Regions from separate parts of the Homo sapiens genome. Here regions 1, 2 and 4 are each linked to region 3. Evidence: fine-mapped expression QTL. A gene starts in region 3. Each other region holds a variant in brackets. All regions are shown on one strand. Distances are between the middles of the regions.

Region 1 (5,000 bases), 72 kb after region 3:
TTGGTTCATCTGGGCATGCTCAGGTTATGAGACCTGAGGGTCCGTGACAACTGAAAAACAACTCACAACTTTGTTACGTAAAAGTTGAACCAGATTGATCTGGTGTGACCACACTCTTACCCTTATCTGTTATTTCTCATTCCAAACTTTGCTTATTAACTGTAATGTTTGCCTTTGTAATTGCTTCACTTTCATCACATATAAGAAGTACTCAATGAATGCTTACTGATTTCATGCACTGTAGGAACAACACCGACTATTGTCATGTTGGCTGTTGTCATATTAAAACATCATGTAGGCCAGTCATGGTGGTTCACATCTGTAATCCCAGCACTTTGGGAGGCTGAGACAGGAGGATCCTTTGAGGTCAGGAGTTCGAGACCAGCCTGGGCAACACAGCAAGACCCTGTTTCTACAAAAAATAAAAAAATTAGCCAGGCATGGTGGAGTACACCTTTAGTCCTAGCTACTTGGGAGGTTGAGGCAGGAGGATGGCTTGAGCCCAGGAAGCCAGGGCTGCAGTGAGCCATGATGGTGCAACTGCACTCCAGCCTGAATGACAGCGTGAGACCCAGTCTCTTAAAAACAACAACAATAAAATCATCATGTAACTTGCTAAGACAGCCACACCTTTGTGTTGTGCCTAAAAAATTACTGAGTTCTGGTGGATACATAATGAGGACTTGACAGTGTTTTTTTTTTGTTTTTTGTTTTGTTTTTAGAAGGAGTCTTGCTCTGTCGCCCAGACAGGCTGGAGTGCAGTGCTGTGATCTCAGCTCACTGCAACCTCCATCTCCTGGGTTCAAGTGATTATCCCGCCTCAGCCTCCCCAGTAGCTGGGATTACAGGCGTGTGCCACCATGCCTGGCTGATTTTTCTATTTTTAGTAGAGACAAGGTTTCACCATGTTGGTTGTCCAGGCTTGTCTCCTGACCTCAGGTGATCCGCCCACCTCGGCCTCCCAAAGTGCTGGGATTATAGGCGTGAGCCACCATGCCCAGCCAGTCTTATTAAATGCTTCAAATATATGTCACATTCAGCTTCATGTCCCTGATGGTTCCCTGCACCATGCTACGCCAATAAACACTCAACGGATACTCAACGGATACAAAAGAGTATTTGGTAGATCTTCAGAGACGGAAAGCAAATTCAGTGCCTTTATTCAGCAAAAATTCAATGAGCAGCTGCTATGTGCTGGACACTGTGCTAGCCCCTGGGGATGAAGTGTGAATTAAAGGCAGTGTCTGCCCTCTTGAAGTTCACCACCCAGTGATAGAACACCCAAGAAACCAGCCTCCAAGATGTTCAGATTAAAAGAAATTCTTCCACAGTGACATTTTCACCAGGCAAACTCAGAGTTGTTTGACATGAGAAGGTTTAAAAAAGGATAGTTGTGAAAGACCAGGCAAAGTTCACAAAGTGAAGAAGGGAAAATATTATTTCAGACTGATATTAAATGATGGCCTAGCCTGCTGCCATACTGTCTCACAGGGAAAAGTTTTATTTATGTCTCCTTTGATCTTTTCTCCTTTTTGTCTCTAGGTTTGATGTACAAGCTTTAGCTTGGGCCTTTGATTTACAGTGTTCTGGAGAAAGAGACCAGGGATGACAAAGCCAACCAGGCTGTTACCTAAAAACCTGATATATTGTCCTAGATCTAGGCTGTCTTAGAGCTACACAAAGAATTTCCAGCAGACTGCTCAGGAAGAGCCTGCTGGGAAGGCAGTTCCCCTAAAGTCCCATAAAATAAAGAGCTTCCCAGTCCTTCTTTGATATCCACGGTTTGCTTAAGTATTGGATGTTAAGGCAGCAACTTCTAGTCCTGTGGAAAATCTTTTAATATCTGTGCTTAATCAACTGAGAAAATAAAAATTTATAGATCCATCAATGACAAATATATTAAACATGGGGCTTTAAAAATTGCCTGGAAGTCTGTGACCAACATTTTTTTAGCCTGTAAAATATAGTTTGTTTAAACTTATTAAGGCTGGGCGTGGTGGTGGCTCACGCCTATAATCCCAGCACTTTGGGAGGCTGAGGTGGGCGGATCACCTGAGGTCAGGAGTTCGAGACCAGACTGGCCAACATGGTGAAACCCCGTTTCTACTAAAAATACAAAAATCAGCCGGGCGTGGTGGTGTGCACCTATAATCCCAGCTGCTCAGGAGGTTGAGGCACGAGAATCGCTTGAACCAGGAGGCGGAGGTTGCAGTGAGCTGAGATCACACCACTGCACTCCAGCCTGGGTGACAGAGCATGACTCTATCTCAAAACAAAACAAAACAAAACAAAAAAACTTGATTATAGTATACTGGATATTGAGGGATAGGGAATTTAGTTATCAGCTGGGAGTAATAACAAATTTCTGGAAAACTCAAACATCGATCATATCAGAGTTTCTGAGGATCAGAAATCCAGGAGGGGCTTAATAGGGTAGTTCTGGCTCAGGGTCTGTCATGAGGTGGCCGCCAAGTGAAACCTTCCCTGGAGCTGGAAGAGCTGCTTCAGAGAAGACTGCCACCGGA[T/C]GCTTGGCTGGAGTTTTCAGTTTTTCTCCACATGGGCCTCTCCCAGGGCTGCTGAGTGTCCTTGAACTGTGGCAGTCAGCTTCCCCACAGTGAGTCGTGAGAGAGGGAGACAGCCAAACAGAAGCCCTGGAGTCTTTCATGATCTCATCTCAGACATGATGGGCCATCTCCTCTGCTGCACTCGACAGTCATACAGACCAACCCTGGGACCACATGCAAGGGGACCACCTGAGGGTGTGAGTGCTAGGAGGTGAGGAGCCATCCTGGATGCTGGCTACCTCATAGGTGACTGGCCAGGCAAAGTTTATTAACTAAAAGTTCTTTGTGTTGACTCAGGTGAACTAACATTTACTGCTTCAGTTGTTCATTTAATTTAATTTTCTTGAGAGATTTAAAGTAAGTGCTCAAAGCCAGGCATGGTGGCTCATGCCTGTAATCCCAGCACTTTGGGAGCCCAAGGCGGGCAGATCACCTGAGGTCAGGAGTTTGACACCAGCCCAGCCAACACGATGAAACCCCATCTCTACTAAAAATACAGAAAATTAGCCGGGCGTGGTGACGGGTGCCTGTAGTGCCAGCTACTTGGGAGGCTGAGGCAGGAGAATCACTTGAACCTGGGAGGCAGAGGCTGCAGTGAACCAAGATCGCACCACTGCACTCCAGCCTGGGCTACAGAGTGAGACTCTATCTCAAAAAAATTAATTAATTAAAAATAAATAAATGAATAAAGTGAGTGCTCAGAGCTGTGTTGCTTTGTTGTGTGCATGTGTGTGAGTGTGTGTGCTTGTGTCCCTAAGTCCCAGCAGTGAGACAAATTGTGTGGTTCCTTATCGTACCTGAGAAGCAGGGAGCAGCCACCAAGAAGACTGTTACAGTGGGTGAGTTGTTTATGCCCTGCTTAAGGCCAGCCCCTCCACTTAATCTTCATCTCCTCTCTCCTAGTCATGGACTTCACACCCACCGTTAACCCCTCACTCCTGCATTATCAATCTTTCTCTCTTGACTGGCTCATTCTTGGCTACATACAAAGATGATGTAATATTTCCCATCTAAAAAAAAAAATCCATGACCCCAGGTTCCTCTTTAGGTCCTGCCCTGTTTCTCTGTTCCTTTTTATAGCAGAAGGCTATGAAAGATGTGTCTTATTTGTCTATACTCACTCTCTCCACCTCTTACCTTCCCGATTTCTCTCCAACCCACTCCAGTCACACTTTTGCCTTCCCTCCCCCACCCCGCCCCCACCCCCATATATACTCCACCACTGCTATTGTTATGGAACTGTGGTGTCTTTTGTCCTTCCAAATCCAGTGGTCGGTTCCCAGTCCTTTGTATTTGACCAAGCAGCAGCGTTTTACACTGTTGATCCCCCCCTTCCCGGATACCTGTTCTTCCCTTGGCTCCTGGGACCCCTCCCTCAGCTTCTCCTCCTGCCCTCACTGGCTGCTGTTTCTCATCCTCCTCTGCTGGCTCTTCAAGGCACTTCTTACTGACCTCAGGCCTCAGGCCTCTTCCCTCCACCCCTCTGCCTTCAGTCCCTTTTGTATTTTTTTGTAGAGACAGGATTTTGGCATGTTGGCCAGATTGGTCTCAAACTCCTGACCTCAAGTGATCCACCTGACTCGGCTTCCCAAAGGCATGAGTCATAGTGCCTGGTCTAGCATAGACTTGTTTTTTGTTGTTTTTTGTTTTTTTTTTTTTGAGATGGAGTTTTGCTGTTGTCACCAGGCCGGAGTGTAATGACGCGATCTCAGCTCACTATAACCTCTGCCTCCTGGGTTCAAGCAATTTTCCTGCCTCAGCCTTCCTAGTAGCTGGGATTACAGGCGCCCGCCACCACACCCAGTTAATTTTTGTATTTTTAGTAGAGACAGGGTTTCACCATGTTGGCCAGGCTGGTCTCGAACTCCTGTCCTCAAGTGATCTGCCCACCTCAGCCTCCCACACTGTTGGGATTACAGGCATGAGTCACCGCGCCCAGCCAAAAATCTCATAATGTTCTAAGAAAGTTTACACAGTTGTGTTGGGCTGCATTCAAAGCCATCCTGGGTTGCATGGGCAAGCTTCCTCCACTGCCTGCATCTGTCCCCATAGGCCACCTCTAGAATGTGTTCCAAATAGAGTAATGTCTCACCACCTCCTCCACTCTACCCAAACCCCAGCCACCATCTTCCACAACTCCTGCAGTAGCCTCGTACCTGGGCTCCAGTCCCATGCTTGCCCTCCTTGGTCTCCTTTCCAGCAGCAGCACCAGAATGTCACTTCCACCTGCTTAAAACCTTTCAGTGCGCTTAGGACACAATCCAAGCTGCTCCATCAGCTCTCTGGGCCCCACAGGATCTGGCTTCTCCCTGCCTGGCTGTGACTGCTTCTCCCACCTCTTCCCAGCCGCACTGGCCTTCTTTCTGGTCTTCACACATAAGCTCACTCCCACCTCCGGGATTTTGCACTTGCTGGTCCCTTAGTCTGGAATGTTCT
Region 2 (5,000 bases), 61 kb after region 3:
GCAAGACTCCATCTCAAAAAAAAAAGAAACGTAAAAGTCCTAGGTCTTCATGCTTCTCCCCAGAAGTAATTATTGTAGATAACTTTTGTGTATCCTTCCATATACACACCTACAGATCTATATACATAAATATAGATAGACATACATACATATGTACATGTGTATATTGTACACACACAAACAGCACGTATATCTTTTTTTCTAAATACCAATGGAATTTTACCAAAATATTATCTTGCATCTTGCCCTTTTTTCACTTATTGCTATAATAAGGCAGCTTGCCATGTTGGTACATGTAGCTCTCTCATATTTTTACTGTCTGCATAGTATCCCATTGTATGATTGGATCATAGTTTATTTAACGAGATGTCTATTGATGGATGTTTAGATTGACCCATGTTTTTACTCATAAACAATCTTGCAGGGAATCTCCTCTTACACAGCTTATCTAATGCATTTGGTGAATGAATATTCTCATTCATGGAGTCAAACTTGGTAACTATATTGTTGTATTTTGAATATTAGTGATTTAGTGGATTTAAGCAGAAAATATTTTAATGAAATTTAATGGCTAAGTAACAAAAGATCGCCTTTATTTGCACAAGAAACATTCTTACAGATGGTGAAAGTGTTACAGAAGCCAGTTTAGTTGGGTTAATATTATCGGTTAGGAGTTAATTCACAGTAAAGTGTTTGTTTTAGAACATCAAATTAATATGCCATGAAGGAATTTAAGGGGGTGGCATTTTTTATGAGTTGCCATAGTGGCAGATACAGAGTTGTGGCACATACCTCATGAGAATGTACTTCCAGAGGTAGAACTAAAAAAGAATAATTTCTCATAAGAGGAGGTGAGAAATGTTGGGGGTGGATTTTTCTTTCTAAAACCATGCTCATAAGTGATGAAAAGGACAGCTTTTAAAAATCACCAAAGAACTAAATGTATGACTAAATAGTGGAAAGGATCTTAACGTACATGTTTGCACAAAAATAAGAAACTCATTTTAATTCCATGAAACAAATACTAACTATGGTTTAGAGTGAATCTTGACAGCATTCATAGATATGGCTCTCCTTAAATAGACTCTTAGAATTAGATGTATTTGCTCTGAGCTCAGAGTTAAATCCTCATTTCCCCTTATGTCACACCCTACTGCCAAGTGTCTGATTAGCAGCATCCTGAAAGGAAAAGCCGGCTGCCTCCCCTGAAGTGGGTCCCCAGTTCTGTAGTCCAGCTTGCTCCAGAGGTTATTGTCACTCTGCCACCAAAAACAACCAATACAGTCAAAGCTCAGCAGCTCCAGCTCTAGCTGGATGAATTATCTTCTAACCACTCTTACCCCACATTGTACAACTGCATCCATCCTTCCTCAGTTGTACAGACAACTTAAATATTTCCTCTACACCATTGGTTCTCAACCAGTGGCCGTTGCCCCGTGCTGCCACCACCAGGGGACATTTGGTGGAGTTTGGAGACATTTTTGGTTGTTAAAGCCATAGGATGCTACTGACATATAGTCGGGAGAGGCCAGGGATGCTTCTAAATATCCTGCAATGCACAGAATAGTTCCCCCACCCAACAAAGAATTATCTAGCCCGATAGCGCTGAGGGTATGAAACCCTGCTGTACACAGTGATGTCACATACTGAGGTCTCATTGTTATTTCAGTTTTCTGGCATATCTAGTTTATCACATACTACACCTTTGTCAAAAATTGGATTGTTCGGCCAGGCGCAGTGGCTCACACCTGTAATCCCAGCACTTTGGGAGGCCGAGGCAGGCAGATCATGAAGTCAGGAGTTCTAGACCAGCCTGGCCAACATGGTGAAACCCCATCTCTACTAAAAATACAAAAATTAGCCAGGCGTGATGCTGCGCGCCTGTAATCGCAGCTACTTGGGAGGCTGAGGGAGGAGAACTGCTTGAACCCGGGTGGTGGAGGTTGCAGTGAGCCAAGATCGTGCCACTGCACTCCAGCCTGGGTGACAAAGCAAGACTCTGTCTCGGAAAAAAAAAAAAATTGTATTGTTCAATAATGGACCACCTTAGACATCGAGTAACTAAGGGGACTGATACTGTGGTAGAGTGATCTTAGCATTAGGCTAGGTGGCAATTAGGAGATAGGTGTTCTAATCTCATTATTGCCTCTAATTAGCTATGGGACCTTC[C/T]GAGCCATTTAATTATCTTTTGTGAAATGAGAGCATTTGCCTAAGTTGCCTAGAGTCTTTCTAAGTCTTAAAATATTCCATTACTCTGCCATTGCACATATATTTTTTAAGTGGGATAAGGATGAACAGTAGGTACATACAGGTGTTCCATTGATTCTTTCTATTTCCCCTACCAATAGACGTATTTCTGTAGGCCTGGCATGATGGCTCACGCCTATAATCCCAGCACCTTGGGAGGCTGAGGTAAGCAGATCACTTGAGATCAAGAGTTTTGAGACCAGACTGGCCAACGTGGTGAAACCATGTCTCCACAAAAAATACAAAGGTTAGCCAGGCATGGTGGTGCATGCCTGTAACTACATCCCAGCTACTTGGGTGGCTGAGGCAGGAGAATCGCTTGAACCCAGGAGGTGGAGGTTACAGTGAGCAGATGTCATGCCACTGCACTCCAGAGTGAGACTCTGTCTCAAAAAAAAAAAAAAAAGATAATTCTGTTATATAATCTTTTGTTAACTCTGCAGATGTCCTGGCTTTAAGATCGTCCTGTATGATCATCCAATGCTGAGAAGTGCTGATGACCTAATACTAATATATCACATAAGACACTTCATTTTCCAGCAACAGTAATATATAGCATTAGTTCATTCATACATCTACTTTTGATCAGACATTTACTGAGGGGTGATCGATGCCAAGTATTTGATCCATATAGTAATCCTGCAGCCAGGCAGGAAAAGGCTTATTCTCTCCAAATTACGTACCAGAAGCCACAGCTCAGAGAGATGTCCCAGGTCATATGACTCCATAAGTGACAGTTCCAAGACAGATGTTTCCAGGACTCCCTTAATTCTTGGAGAGAGCACCTTCCTTCTGTGATCTAGCGAAGTCATAGGACAGGAGAGCCACAGCCAGCAACTGAGAGTGGAAACTTTACTTATCAGATTAGAAAACATATGCCCCCAGAAAGGTGAAATCTCACAAAATAGACACAAACCTCAGGAGTTTTAATTAAAAAGGACAGCTTTTTAATTCCCTTCTCTTCCAGTTCTCTAAATAATGTATTTCTGACATTAAGTGTATTAGGACCAGACTGGTGTCTTCTGGCAGTAGAATGGTAGACAAAAAAAAATGTGTTTTCAAGCTGGAGACCTGAGGCTGGGCATGGTGGCTCACGCCTGTAAAACCAGTGCTTTGGGAGACCAAGGAGGGAGGATTGCTTGAGCCCAGGAGTTCAAGACCAGCCTGGGGAACATAGTGAGACTGTGTCTCTACAAAAAAATTTAAAAATTAGCCAGGTGTGGTGGTGCACACCTTTGGTCCCAACTATTTGGGAGACTGAGGTGGGAGGAGCACTTGAGCCCAGGAGGTCGAGGCTGCAGTGAGCCATGACCATGCCACTGCACTCCAGCCTGGGCAACAATGTGAAACTGTGTCTCTGAAAAAAAAAAAAATGAATTTGAACACCTGCACTAAACCCCATCTCCACCACTGCCGGCTGTATAACCCAAGGCGAGTTACTTTCTCTTAAGCCTTAATTTTCTCATCTGTAAAATGGGGATTACTAATACTTAGTTCATAGGATTGCTATGAAGGGTAAGTGGGATAATATGTATCTGTAAGTCCTAGTCTAGGAACTTCTTTTTCTTTTTCTTTTTTTTTTCTTTTTTTTTCTTTTTTTTTTTGAGGACCCGACCTTTTATTTTGCCAAGCAAAAATCTTAAAAACAACCTATACCAATATCTCCACAAATCTATTAGCATTTCATAAAAGAAAGGATATTTTAACATTCAAAATGAAAGAAGGACCTAATCCCAAAATAAAGATCAGTTTTCTGTAGTCCCTAGTGTTTTTTTCTCACGTATCCATGGACTAGTAAGGGTTTCATCATGGCCTAGCATGAGTCCATAGGCCACTGCTTGGAAAACTTCTATGTATCCAGTATACAATGCACTGATTACTGTGCTCAGTGCTTAACAGGCAACTGGAAGATGGTAAGAACTATTATTAATAACAGACACTTAGAGGTTTTGATATATGTAACTTTAGAGTCCTTCTTTCCATTTCTAAAAATTCCGACAATTTTTGAACAAGTGAACGAGTGGCCTCTTGTAAGACAACAGAGCCAGAAGTCCTCAGGAGCTCAGTACAATTGTGTCTTTGCTTTATAAAATAAATCATCATGAATGAGAAGTAGCTTTGCCATGTGTATTACTTTCACCAGGTATTATGCCTCACTAAATGCAGAGTTCTTTTCTGTTTCTCCGTATTATGTTAGATTGTTTACCTGAACCCTGATGGCTAGCTTCTTTACAGGGTTGTGAATGTTGTCCCTTCAGTCATTAGCGAAATGCTTATTGTGTATCTACTATGCTGCAGACCCTGTTCCTAGGGTCGGGGATACACAGTGAACAAAATAGACAAAGGCTCTCCCTCTCTTTAAGGGGCTTTTTATTTTTATTTTTATTTTTTTATTGAGACGGGGTCTCACTCTGTCACCCAGGCTGGAGTGCAGTGATATAATCGTGGCTTACCACAGCCTCAACCTCCCAGGCTCAGGTGACACTCCTACCTCAGCCTCCTAAGTACCTGGGACCACAGGTGTGTGCCACCATGCCTGGCTATTTTTTTCTATTTTTAGTAGAGGTGGGGTTTCACCATGTTGCCCCGGCTGCTCTAGAACTTCTGGGCTCAAGTGATCCACTCGCCTCGACCTCCCAAAGTGCTGGGATTACAGGCGTGAGTCACCATGCCTGGTCTTTAAAGGGCTTTTTAAATTCTAGTTCTTTGGCTGGGTGCTGTGGCTCACGTCTGTAATCCCAGCATTTTGGGAG
Region 3 (5,245 bases):
TCTGAAATACAAGCAGAGAAAAAGATAAACGTGGTCTTTGCCTTTGAGATACTTACAGTTTGGTGGGAAAAGCAGAAAGGACAAAGGAGTTTAGAGCAATCTGGGTAAACAGAGGAAAGTGAGCTATTCTTGCAAGGGACCACTAACTCTTTTCAGATAAGTCAGAGAAGGTTCCTGGAGGAAAAATTGGTTAAAGCTGAGATTGTAAGGAAGATAAACATCAAAGAAGAGAGAAGAGTGTTCGTAAGGGAAGAAATTGCATGGGGGAAGAGCTCAGAATTGAGAGAAGGCAAGCATGGAGTATTTAAGGAAAAGAAAGTCCGGGCATGGTGGCTCACACCTGTAATCCCAGCACTTTGGGAGGCCAAGGTGGCGGATCATCTGAGGTCTGGAGTTCGAGACCAGCCTGACCAACATGGTGAAAACCCATCTCTACTAAAAATAAAAAAATTAGCTGGGCATGGTGGCACATGCCTGTAATCCCAGCTGCTCAGGAGGCTGAGGCAGGAGAATTGCTTGAACCCGGGAGGCAGAGGTTGCAGTGAGCCAAGATCGCGCCACTGCACTCCAGCCTGGGCGACACAGTGAGACTCCATCTCCAAAAAATAAATAAATAAATAAATAAATAAAAGGAAAAGAAAATAGTGTATAGGTAAAATATTTATCTTAAGTCCAGGACTCCTAATTTATGGGTTATTATTCCAATTTAGGCATCGATAGGAGGCTATGAGTATACACTACTCTTTCAAGAAAATGGTGAAAGGGGAAAAGAGCCCTCAGTTTTGTTAAATTTTATAAGAGGCAATTGATTTGGTCTGACCTCCTCCACTAGGCCCCAGCAGGCCAGGCCAAATCAGAACTGAGTTACTTGTGCTAAGTGCCATGTAATCAAACTGAACTTTGAAACAAGCCCATCTTCCAGAAAACGGGAGATTCCAGTCAATCTGAGTAAATATAATAAGGAAGTCTTCTCTGTTTTAACCCTACAAGGAAAGTAACTTTGAAATGATCAATTTGCAGGGCCGGGTGCGGTGGCTCATGGCTGTAATCACAGCACTTTGGGAGGCCCAGGCGGGAAAATCACTTGAGATCAGGAGTTCAAGACTAGTCTGGCCAACATGGCAAAACCCTGTCTCTACTAGAAATACAAAAATTAGCCGGGCATGGTGGTGCACGCCTGTGATCCAGGTACTAGGGAGGCTGACACACAAGAATCACTTTAACTCAGGAGATGGAAGTTGAGATCGCACCAGGACACTCCAGCCTGGACGACAGAGTAAGACTGTCTCAAAAAAAAAAAGAAAAAAAAAAGGACGATCAATTTGCTTTTTGTTCAAATCTCTTTCTGCATTCTTTAGCCCCTTTTCTGCCTATGAAGCTAACCTTGTCTGCTCAGCTCATTGGAACATTCAATCTTATAGAATGAGATGCTGCCTGATTCTAGAATTGTAAACAAAAGCCAATTAGATCTTTAAGCTAAATCTTAATTTTGTAATTTTGTCTTTAGACAGTCTCTTTTTTGTGGTCCTGCAGTTGTGGCAGTTATGTAGTTATCTGCATGCATCAGAATATTACAATATTTTCATCCTCATCTTTAATTTCTACTTTTCATATTTTTAAAATGTAGACATTCAAGTTTATTTATTTATTTATTAAAACCATTTTGTAGGCCGGGCACGGTGGCTCACGCCTGTAATCCCAGCACTTTGGGAGGCCCAGGCAGGCGGATCACGAGGCCAGGAGATCGAGACCATCCTGGCTAACACGGTGAAACCCCGTCTCTACTAAAAATACAAAAAATTAGCCGGGCGTGGTAGCGGGCGCCTGTAGTCCCAGCTACTTGGGAGGCTGAGGCAGGAGAATGGCGTGAACCCGGGAGGCGGAGCTTGCAGTGAGCCGAGATGGCGCCACCGCACTCCAGCCTGGGCAACAGAGCGAGACTCCGTCTCAAAAAAAAAAAAACAAAACCATTTTGTAGAGACAAGGTCTCCACTGTGTTGCCCAGGTGGGTCTTGAACTCCTTGCCTCAAGTAATCCTCCCATCTTGGCCTCCCAAAGCAGTGGGATTACAGGGGCATGCCACCCCACCCTCTCCAAGACATTGAATTTTATTTATTTTTTTTTTTGAGACGGAGTTTCGCTCTCGTTGCCCAGGCTGGAGTGCAATGGCACGATCTTGGCTCACCACAACCTCCACCTTCTGGGTTCAAGCGATTCTCCTGCCTTAGTCTCCCGGGTAGCTGCGATTACAGGCTGCACCACCACACCCAGCTAATTTTGTATTTTTAGTAGAGACAGGGTTTCTCTGTTGGTAAGGCTGGTCTCGAACTCCCGACCTCAGGTGATCCTCCTGCCTCGGCCTACCAAAGTGCTGGGATTACAGGCGTGAGCCACTGAGCCCAGACGAATTTTTTTTTTTAAAAGGCAAGGTCTAGCTCTGTTGCCCAGGCTGGACTGCAGTGGCAAGAACATGGCCAACTGCAGCCTTGACCTCTCAGGCTCAAGCAATTCTCCCACCTCAGCCCCCCAACTACCTGGGCCTACAGACATGTGCCACCATGCCTCGCTAATTAAAAAAAAATTTTTTTTGTAGAGACAGTGTCTCCCTATGTTGCCCAGGCTGGTCTCAAACTCCTGGCCTCAAGTGATCCGTCTCAGCCTCCCAAAGTGCTGGGACTACAGGCGTAAGCCACCGCTCCCGGCCAACATTTAAATTTTTGAATATTTTTTCTGTTCCCTTAGGGTTTACCAAGCACATTTATCGACAAGCCTCCTCAGGAAATTGCCCAAAATAGCCACATGTGGCAAGCCTCATTGACAGGCCAAAAGCCTCAGTCAACATGGCCGCGACCGGCTTCCATTGCCCTTCACTGCCCGCAGTAAGGATGGCTCCGGTGACTTCCTTCGAACCTCACATTTCCCATAAAAAAGATGGCGCCATTGCTTCCGCGTTCCGGTTGCGGATGGTGAGTGTGTCGGGGGGCTTGGCGGCTTTTCTCCTCAGTTTTCTGGAGTGCTTTGGAGGAGAGGTAAGCGCGGGATGGGATGGGGGGGGGTTGGAGTGGTGGGGGCGGGGGTCACAGCAATGCATCTGATCGTTCTCTCTCAATTAGGAAGTTATGGAGGCTTTCCTAGGCATGTCAGGATTTCCTGCTAGCTCCCCGCCCCTTCCGCCCCAACACACGGTGTCTGCAGCCTGTGCTTTGGGGAATTTTGGGAATTTGTGGATAGTGAGTATGGATAAGCTTCGGTTTTGTTGTTTTTTTTTAAATTTTTTCAGTGACCTGCCACTTCAGGAGGTTCTGCTAAAAAACCAACAAACAAAAAAACAGCTTTCTTGGGAAATTTCTATTCACCTACTAAGTAAAATTTGCCCATTTAAAGCGTAAAAAAAAATCAAGCCTAGCATAGTGGCATTCGCCTGTAGTTCCAGCTGCTCAGGAGACTGAGGTGGGAGAATCGCTTGTGCCCCGGAGTTCCAGGCTGCAGTGAGCCCAGATCGCGCCACTGCACTCCAGCCTGGAAGACAGAGCAAGACAACGTACCCAAAAATAAATAATAAAGGGTAACATTAAGGGTTTTTTTGTTGTTGTTGACAGAATTGTGCATCTATTACTGTGATCTCATTTTAGAATACTTTCATCACTCCAAAGAAAAATCCTGCCTCCAGTAGCAGTCATTCTACATTCACCACGTCCACTCCGCCTCAAGTCCTAGACAATTGCTAGTATACTTTCTGTCTGTATAGCCTTGCCAATTCGCACGTTTGATATAAATGAAATCATACAGTGCAGCTGGCTTCTTTCATTAAGTATAATGTCAATGTTTTTGTGACTAGCTTCTTTCATGACTTTTGTTCTTTTTTTAAACGGAGTCTCATGACTCTCACTCTGTAGCCCAGGCTGGAGTATAGTGGCACGATCTTGGCTCACTGCAACCTCTGCTGCCCAGGTTCAAGCTAGTCTCCTGCCTGAGCCTCCCGAGTAGCTGGGACTACAGGCGCCTGCCACCACGTTCGACTAATTTTTGTATTTTTAGTAGAGACGAGGTTTCACCATCTTGGCCAGGCTGGTCTTGAACTCCTCAGCTCTTGATCAACCTGCCTCAGCCTCTCAAAGTGCTGAGATTACAGGTGTGAGCCACCACGCCCGGCTATCTTCTTATACTATGTATAATATTTTCAAAGCTTGTCTTTGTATCATGTGTCAGACTGTTAGCAAATAAATAAAACTCTGTAAACTATTTTAAAGCGGTTTATTCTGAGCCAGTATGATTGACCATCGCCCAGAGAGAAAACACAAACCCAAAAAGTCTTTAGTAAGTGATCCCGAGGCAGTTGGGTTATAGTTTGTTTTTTTTACATTTTAGGGAGACAGGAGTTAACAGGCAAAGACATAAATCAATACATGGAAGGTATACATTGGTTAGACCCAAAAAGGTGGATATGTCCAAGGGTGGTCTTAGAAGTCTTAGGTGGATTTTAGGGATTCTTTAGCTGACAGTTGCTTGAGAGAGTTAAGCTTTGTCTAAAGACTTGAAGTCAGTAGAAAAGAATGCTTGAACTAAGATAAGGGAGTTGTGTGGTTCAAGGTCCTTGTTACGTAGATGAAGTGTGAGTAGCAGCCTCAGAGAATAGATGGGCTAGGTGCCATGACTAGAGATGGGCTGGGCTCCATGGCTCACACCTGTAATCTCAACGCTTTGTGAGGCCGTGGCAGGCAGATCACTTGAGGTCAGGAGTTCAAGACCAGCCTGGCCAACATGATGAAACACCATCTCTACGAAAAATAAAAAAATTAGCCAGGCACGGTGGCGTGCGCCTGTAATCCCAGCTACTTGGAAGGCTGAGACACAAGAATTGCTTGAACCCAGGAGACAAAGGTTGCAGTGAGCTGAGATCGCACTACTGCACTCTAGCCTGGATGACAGAGTGAGACTCCATCTCAAAAAAAAAAAAAACAAAAAAGAGAGAATAGATGGTAAATGTCTCTTTTTGGAAATTTAGGTGTCAGAATTAATCTTTCCTGGATCTGGGAAAGGCCTAGAAAAGGAAATCCTGGCTGCATTAATGGAGATTCTCTACAGATGCAAATTTCTGTTACAAAAGACAGCTTTGTAGCTTTGTAGGGCCATTTTAAAATATGTCAAAGAAATATATTTTGGGGTTTTTTTTTTTTTTTTTTGAGGCAGAGTCTTTGTTCTGTCACCCAAACTGGAGTGCAGTAGTGCGATCTCGGCTCACTGC
Region 4 (5,000 bases), 28 kb after region 3:
CTGGAATTACAGGTGAGCGCAACCACACCTGGCTAATTTTTGTGTTTTTAGTAGAGACGGGGTTCACCATGTTGGCCAGGCTGGTCTTGAACTCCTGACCTCAAGTGATCCACCCGCTGTGGTCATCCCAGGCATGAGCCACTGCTCTGGGATTACAGGCGTGAGCCACTGCGCCCAGCCAGCTCAGGCTTTTATCACAAATACCATACACTGGGTGGCTTCTCACAGCTCCAGAGGCTGGAAAGTCTAAGGTCAAGGTGCCAGCAGATTTGGTGTCTGGTGCTGTCCCTGTTCTTGATTTGTAGACAGCCACCGTCTTCCTGTGTCCTCATATGGCCTAGAGAGAGAGCCTCTTTCTCATGTCTCTTATAAGGGCACTAATGCCATCATGAGGCTTCCACCCTCAAAACTTAATTACCTCTAGCTGGGCACAGTGGCTCATGCCTGTAATCCCAGCACTTTGGGAGGCCGAGGCGGGTGCATCGCCTGAGGTCAGGGGTTCTAGACCAGCCTGGCCAACATGGTAAAACCCTGTCTCTAATAAAAATACAAAAATTAGCCGGGCGTGGTGGCAGGCGCCTGTAATCCCAGATACTCGGGGGCCTGAGGCAGGAGAATCACTTGAACCCAGGAGGTGGAGGTTGTAGTGAGCCAAGACCGCACCATTGCACTCCAGCCCCGGCAACAGAGCAAGACTCCGACTCAAAAATAATAATAATAATAAATAAGTAAGCATAAAAAAAAAGCATTCACATTGGTTTACTCATCCTACCCCATGGAAGGCTCTGGGTGTGATAATTGCTCTCTGCATACTCCACACTGCAGTGTTTTAGGGCACATTAATAGTGATCACTCCCATTTATTGAGCATTTACTACCTGTCAGGTTTTATACTGTCAGGCTCCATGCTAAATATTTCACAAACATCATCACTTTTTTTTTTTCTTTTCAAGACAGAGTCTCACTCTGTTGCCCAGGCTGAGTGCAGTGGCACAATCTCGGCTCACTGCAACCTCCACCTCCCTGGTTAAAGCAATTCTCCTGCCTCAGCCTCCTGAGTAGCTGGGATTACAGGCGTGCACCACCATGCCCAGCTAATATTTATATTTTTAGTAGAGATGAGGTTTCACCATGTTGGCAAGGCTGGTCTTGAACTCCTGACCTCAAGTGATCCACCTGCCTCAGCCTCCCAAAGTGTTGGGATTACAGGTGTGAGCCACCACACCCAGCCCAAACATCACCACTTTTAATTCTTATCACATACCTGAGAAGTGGAAATCATTCCCATTTAATAAGTGAGGAAACAAACTTGGAAAAGTTAGGAAACTTTCCCAGTGTCACTTAGCAAATGACAGAGCTGACTGAATCCAAAGGAAATGTTTCACTTTTTTTTTCTTTTTCGAGGTATGATCCTGCTTTGTTGCCCAGGCTGAAGTGCAGTATTGTGGTTCCCCTGGACTCAAGCAATCTTCCCTTCTCAGCCTCTGAAGTAGTTAAGACTATAGGCGTGTGTTATCCTGCCTAGCTAATTAAAAAAAATTTTATTTTTTTTTTTTGTTTAGAGATGAGATCTCACTATGTTGCCCAGGCTGGTCTTGAACTCCTGGGCCCAAGCGATCCTCCCGCCTCAACCTCTCAGTGTTGGGATTACAGGCATGAGCCACCACACCCAGCTAAAATCACATTGTTATTGGAAGAAAAAGAAAGCTTTTTCTAACCTGGGAAGTGACCAAGAGGATGATACCACTGAGACAAGGAACTGCTGCAAATAAATTTAGGCAAGTTTTGTTAACTTGATAGAACAAACACTTTGGAGAGGTGGAAGGAGTTTTAGGGAGGAATATTAACTTTTTGATACTATTTTATTCAAACTTAAACATTTTAAAACAATTTTTATTTTGCTGTGCACTCTGCAATTCTGTAGTACTTTTATATGTTTTGCCACAATACCCACTAGGTTTGTTTTTAAAAAGGACCAGGGCTGTGAGTGGTGGCTCATGCCTGTTATCTGGCATATCTGGTATATTATGAGGCTGAGGCAGGAGGATCCCTTTTTCTTTTTTTTTTTTTTTTTTTTGAGACAGAGTCTCGTTCTGTCGCCCAGGCTGGAGTGCAGTGGCGCGATCTCGGCTCACTGCAAGCTCCGCCTCCTGGGTTCACGCCATTCTCCTGCGTCAGCCTCCCAAGTAGCTAGGACTACAGGTGCCCACCACCATGCCTGGCTAGTTTTTTTTTTTTTTTTTGTATTTTTAGTAGAGATGAGGTTTCACCGTGTTAGCCAGGATGGTCTCGATCTCCTGACCTTGTGATCCGCTTGAGAGGATCCCTTGAGTTCAGGAGTTTGAGACCAGCCTGGACAACGTAGCAAAACCCTGTCTCTACTAAAAAAAAATTTAAAAATTAGCCGGGTGTGGTGGTACACACCTGTGGTTCCAGCTACTCTGGAGGCTGAGGTGGGAGAATCACTTGAGCCTGGGAGGTGGAGGTTGCAGTGAGCCATGATCGTGCTACTGCACCCCAACCTGGGCGACAGAGCAAGACCTTGTCAAAAAAAAAAAAAAAAATAAGGACCAGATCACCCAGAGCTTCCCAAGAACTAAGTGAGAATGGTATCTTTCAGCCATGACAGGAGCAGGGAATACACTAGAATCAAATGGAAGCCCAGCCGTTCTGTTATTTAATAACACCATCTCTAGTAGATCACCCTAAGCAGAAATAAACGTGCTCAGGTTTATCTATCACAAAGAGAACTTCATTTTAACATCACTAGGAGACTTTTACACAGCATGGAAGGCTGTTGATTTTTCTGTAAACATTCCAGAGCTACCTTTTGTGAGAAATTATCTACAAAAGTCAGTTAGGAGGCC[A/G]GATGCAGTGGCTCATGCCTGTAATCCCAGCACTTTGGGAGGGCGAAGCAGGTGTATCGCTTGAGGCCAGAAATTCAAGACCAGCCTGGACAACATGGTGAAATCTCATCTCTACTAAAAATACAAAAATCAGCCAGGCATGGTGGTGGGCACCTGTAATCCCAGCTACTGGGAGGCTGAGGCATGAGAATCACTTGAACCTGGGAGGTGGAGGCTGCAGTGAGCCAAGATGACACTACTGCACTCTAGTCTGGGCAACAGAGTGAGACTCTGTCTAAAAAAAAAAAAAAAAGTCAGTTAGGAGAGGTTATCACTGGTAATCTTGCTGTTACCAAGCAATGAACTTGAGGTGACAGCCTTAAACTCTGAAGGAGGTCACTGCCCTAACAGCCCAACCTGGTTTACTCCGACCTAACCATTTTCCACCTTAAGTTTCAGAATTGTCCAGGGGCCTGGGTTTTTCATTTATAAGTTGAGTCCATTTTCTTTTCCATGCCTCTTGTTCATAGGTAGCTGTAGTTACGGGTTCTCTCCCCATGGCCCTTCAGGAGGCTCTTGCCGACATTTTAATCTAATTCTGATGACTCTGGATCTATTGTTTGCTCAGAGACATGCCCACCTTTACACTAATCTCTACTGGGCCACCATTCTATCTCAGATTCTTAACACCTCCAGTTCCCAAGCCAGTTTGATGTTCTCTCTTGCTTACTTGCTGTTATGTGTTGTAAGGAAGTTGATCTTCCAGGGATTGGGAAATATAGCCAAGGTTTCCAGTTGGAGGGTCATTCAGGGTGACTCACCATTGGTCTCTGCCCATCCTGGTATTTACTCAGTGAGGCACACACTGTTGGCTACCTTCATGTAGCTTGTGCTTGGCTCAAAATAGAGTTGACTATCTCAAGAACTGGCAGAGTATGGCAGGTTGCTTACAGCTGAATGGGGGGTCTAAGGGTGAACTTGGGACCTGGCTCCCCCAGCTACTGGGTGAAATAGAGCCAAGCTTTGGTCATTAGGATTCATTAACTTGGCATAGTTTTTACAATTTCTGTTTTTTTTTTTTTTTTTTTTTTTGGAGACAGAGTCTTGCTCTGTCACCCAGGCTGGAGTGCAGTGGTGCAATCTCAGCTCACTGCAACCTCTGCTTCCCAGGCTCAAGTGATTCTCATGCCTCAGCCTCCCTAGTAGCTGGGATTACAGGGGTGCACCACCACACCCAGCTAATTTTTGTATTTTTAGTGGAGACAAGGTTTTGCCATGTTGGCCAGTCTGGTCTCAAACTCCTGGCCTCAAGTGATTTGCCCACCTCAGCCTCCCAAAGTGCTGAATTACAGGTGTGAGCCAGTGCACCCGGCTTGACTGTAAGAGTTCAGTCATATCATCTGTTATCAAATTCTTCAGTCAAAATCCAGACACAGAGTTGGCAAGGGGTTGGGGTTCACAGTGGAGGCGTGGCGTAGTCTTCTGGTGGCACAGCACAGCCCAGCAACAGGCACGCTGGAGAGAATACCCAGAAATCCAGGCAGGTGGCAGGCAGTGTGCAGGTGCCTTCTCAGTGAGTAGCAAGGTCCCAGCTTCCAGGTTGGAGTCAGTGTCACAGTTCTAACCCCTGGAAGAGTAGTAGGCCAAGGAAGGGTGACCTTAGATTTAGGATATAGCAAGGACCGCTGCAAAACCCAGTTACAAGAACATGGGCCCAGGCTTAGGCTTAACTTGTGTAAAGGATTCCCCATTTCACCTTGCAGCTGCCCCTGACCATGGGCCTATCCCTGCCCTGCTTTTCCCAGCCAGGCTTTTTGAAGGGGCTGCCTGCCTTCCTCCTCACTTCTTCATCTCAGGATTGCTCCTCATTCCCAGGCACATGGCCTCTACCTCCATTCCCCTCTGGACTAAGCCTGCCCTTACTCAGATGCCAATGATCTTCCCTAGGAGCCAAACTGGATGGACGCTTCTCTGTCCTTTTGCTATGTGCCCAACTGCCGCATCACTGTTCATACTCTGGAGGAGCAAATTAGTAGCAAGGACATGAGACTTAAGAGCACTTTCCAGAAAACTACTGGGCTGATAAGAATCTGAGAGTGTTAGAAAAACCTCAAAAGCCTTAGTCATTCCAGTATGAGTATGTAAAGATGGGTAA

The links. PIP is the estimated chance that this variant, and not a neighbour inherited with it, causes the effect.
Region 1: its variant is fine-mapped to the expression of SHLD1 in whole blood (TOPMed, PIP above 0.99).
Region 2: its variant is fine-mapped to the expression of SHLD1 in whole blood (INTERVAL, PIP 0.96).
Region 4: its variant is fine-mapped to the expression of SHLD1 in whole blood (TOPMed, PIP above 0.99).

The regions. Positions count from the first base shown.
Region 1 is chr20:5,819,243-5,824,242 of GRCh38, forward strand. The region is part of intron 2 of SHLD1 (shieldin complex subunit 1); the gene reads left to right. Among named protein-coding and RNA genes, the nearest start is that of SHLD1, 71 kb to the left of the region's middle. RefSeq lists an enhancer at 3,586-3,725. The variant T/C (reference allele first, on the strand shown) is at 2,526.
Region 2 is chr20:5,808,251-5,813,250 of GRCh38, forward strand. The region is part of intron 2 of SHLD1 (shieldin complex subunit 1); the gene reads left to right. Among named protein-coding and RNA genes, the nearest start is that of SHLD1, 60 kb to the left of the region's middle. The variant C/T (reference allele first, on the strand shown) is at 2,170.
Region 3 is chr20:5,747,451-5,752,695 of GRCh38, forward strand. It overlaps SHLD1 (shieldin complex subunit 1), which reads left to right and starts at 2,951. Exons shown (of 3, transcript NM_152504.4): 1 at 2,951-3,029. RefSeq lists an enhancer at 2,777-2,826.
Region 4 is chr20:5,776,059-5,781,058 of GRCh38, forward strand. The region is part of intron 2 of SHLD1 (shieldin complex subunit 1); the gene reads left to right. Among named protein-coding and RNA genes, the nearest start is that of SHLD1, 28 kb to the left of the region's middle. The variant A/G (reference allele first, on the strand shown) is at 2,867.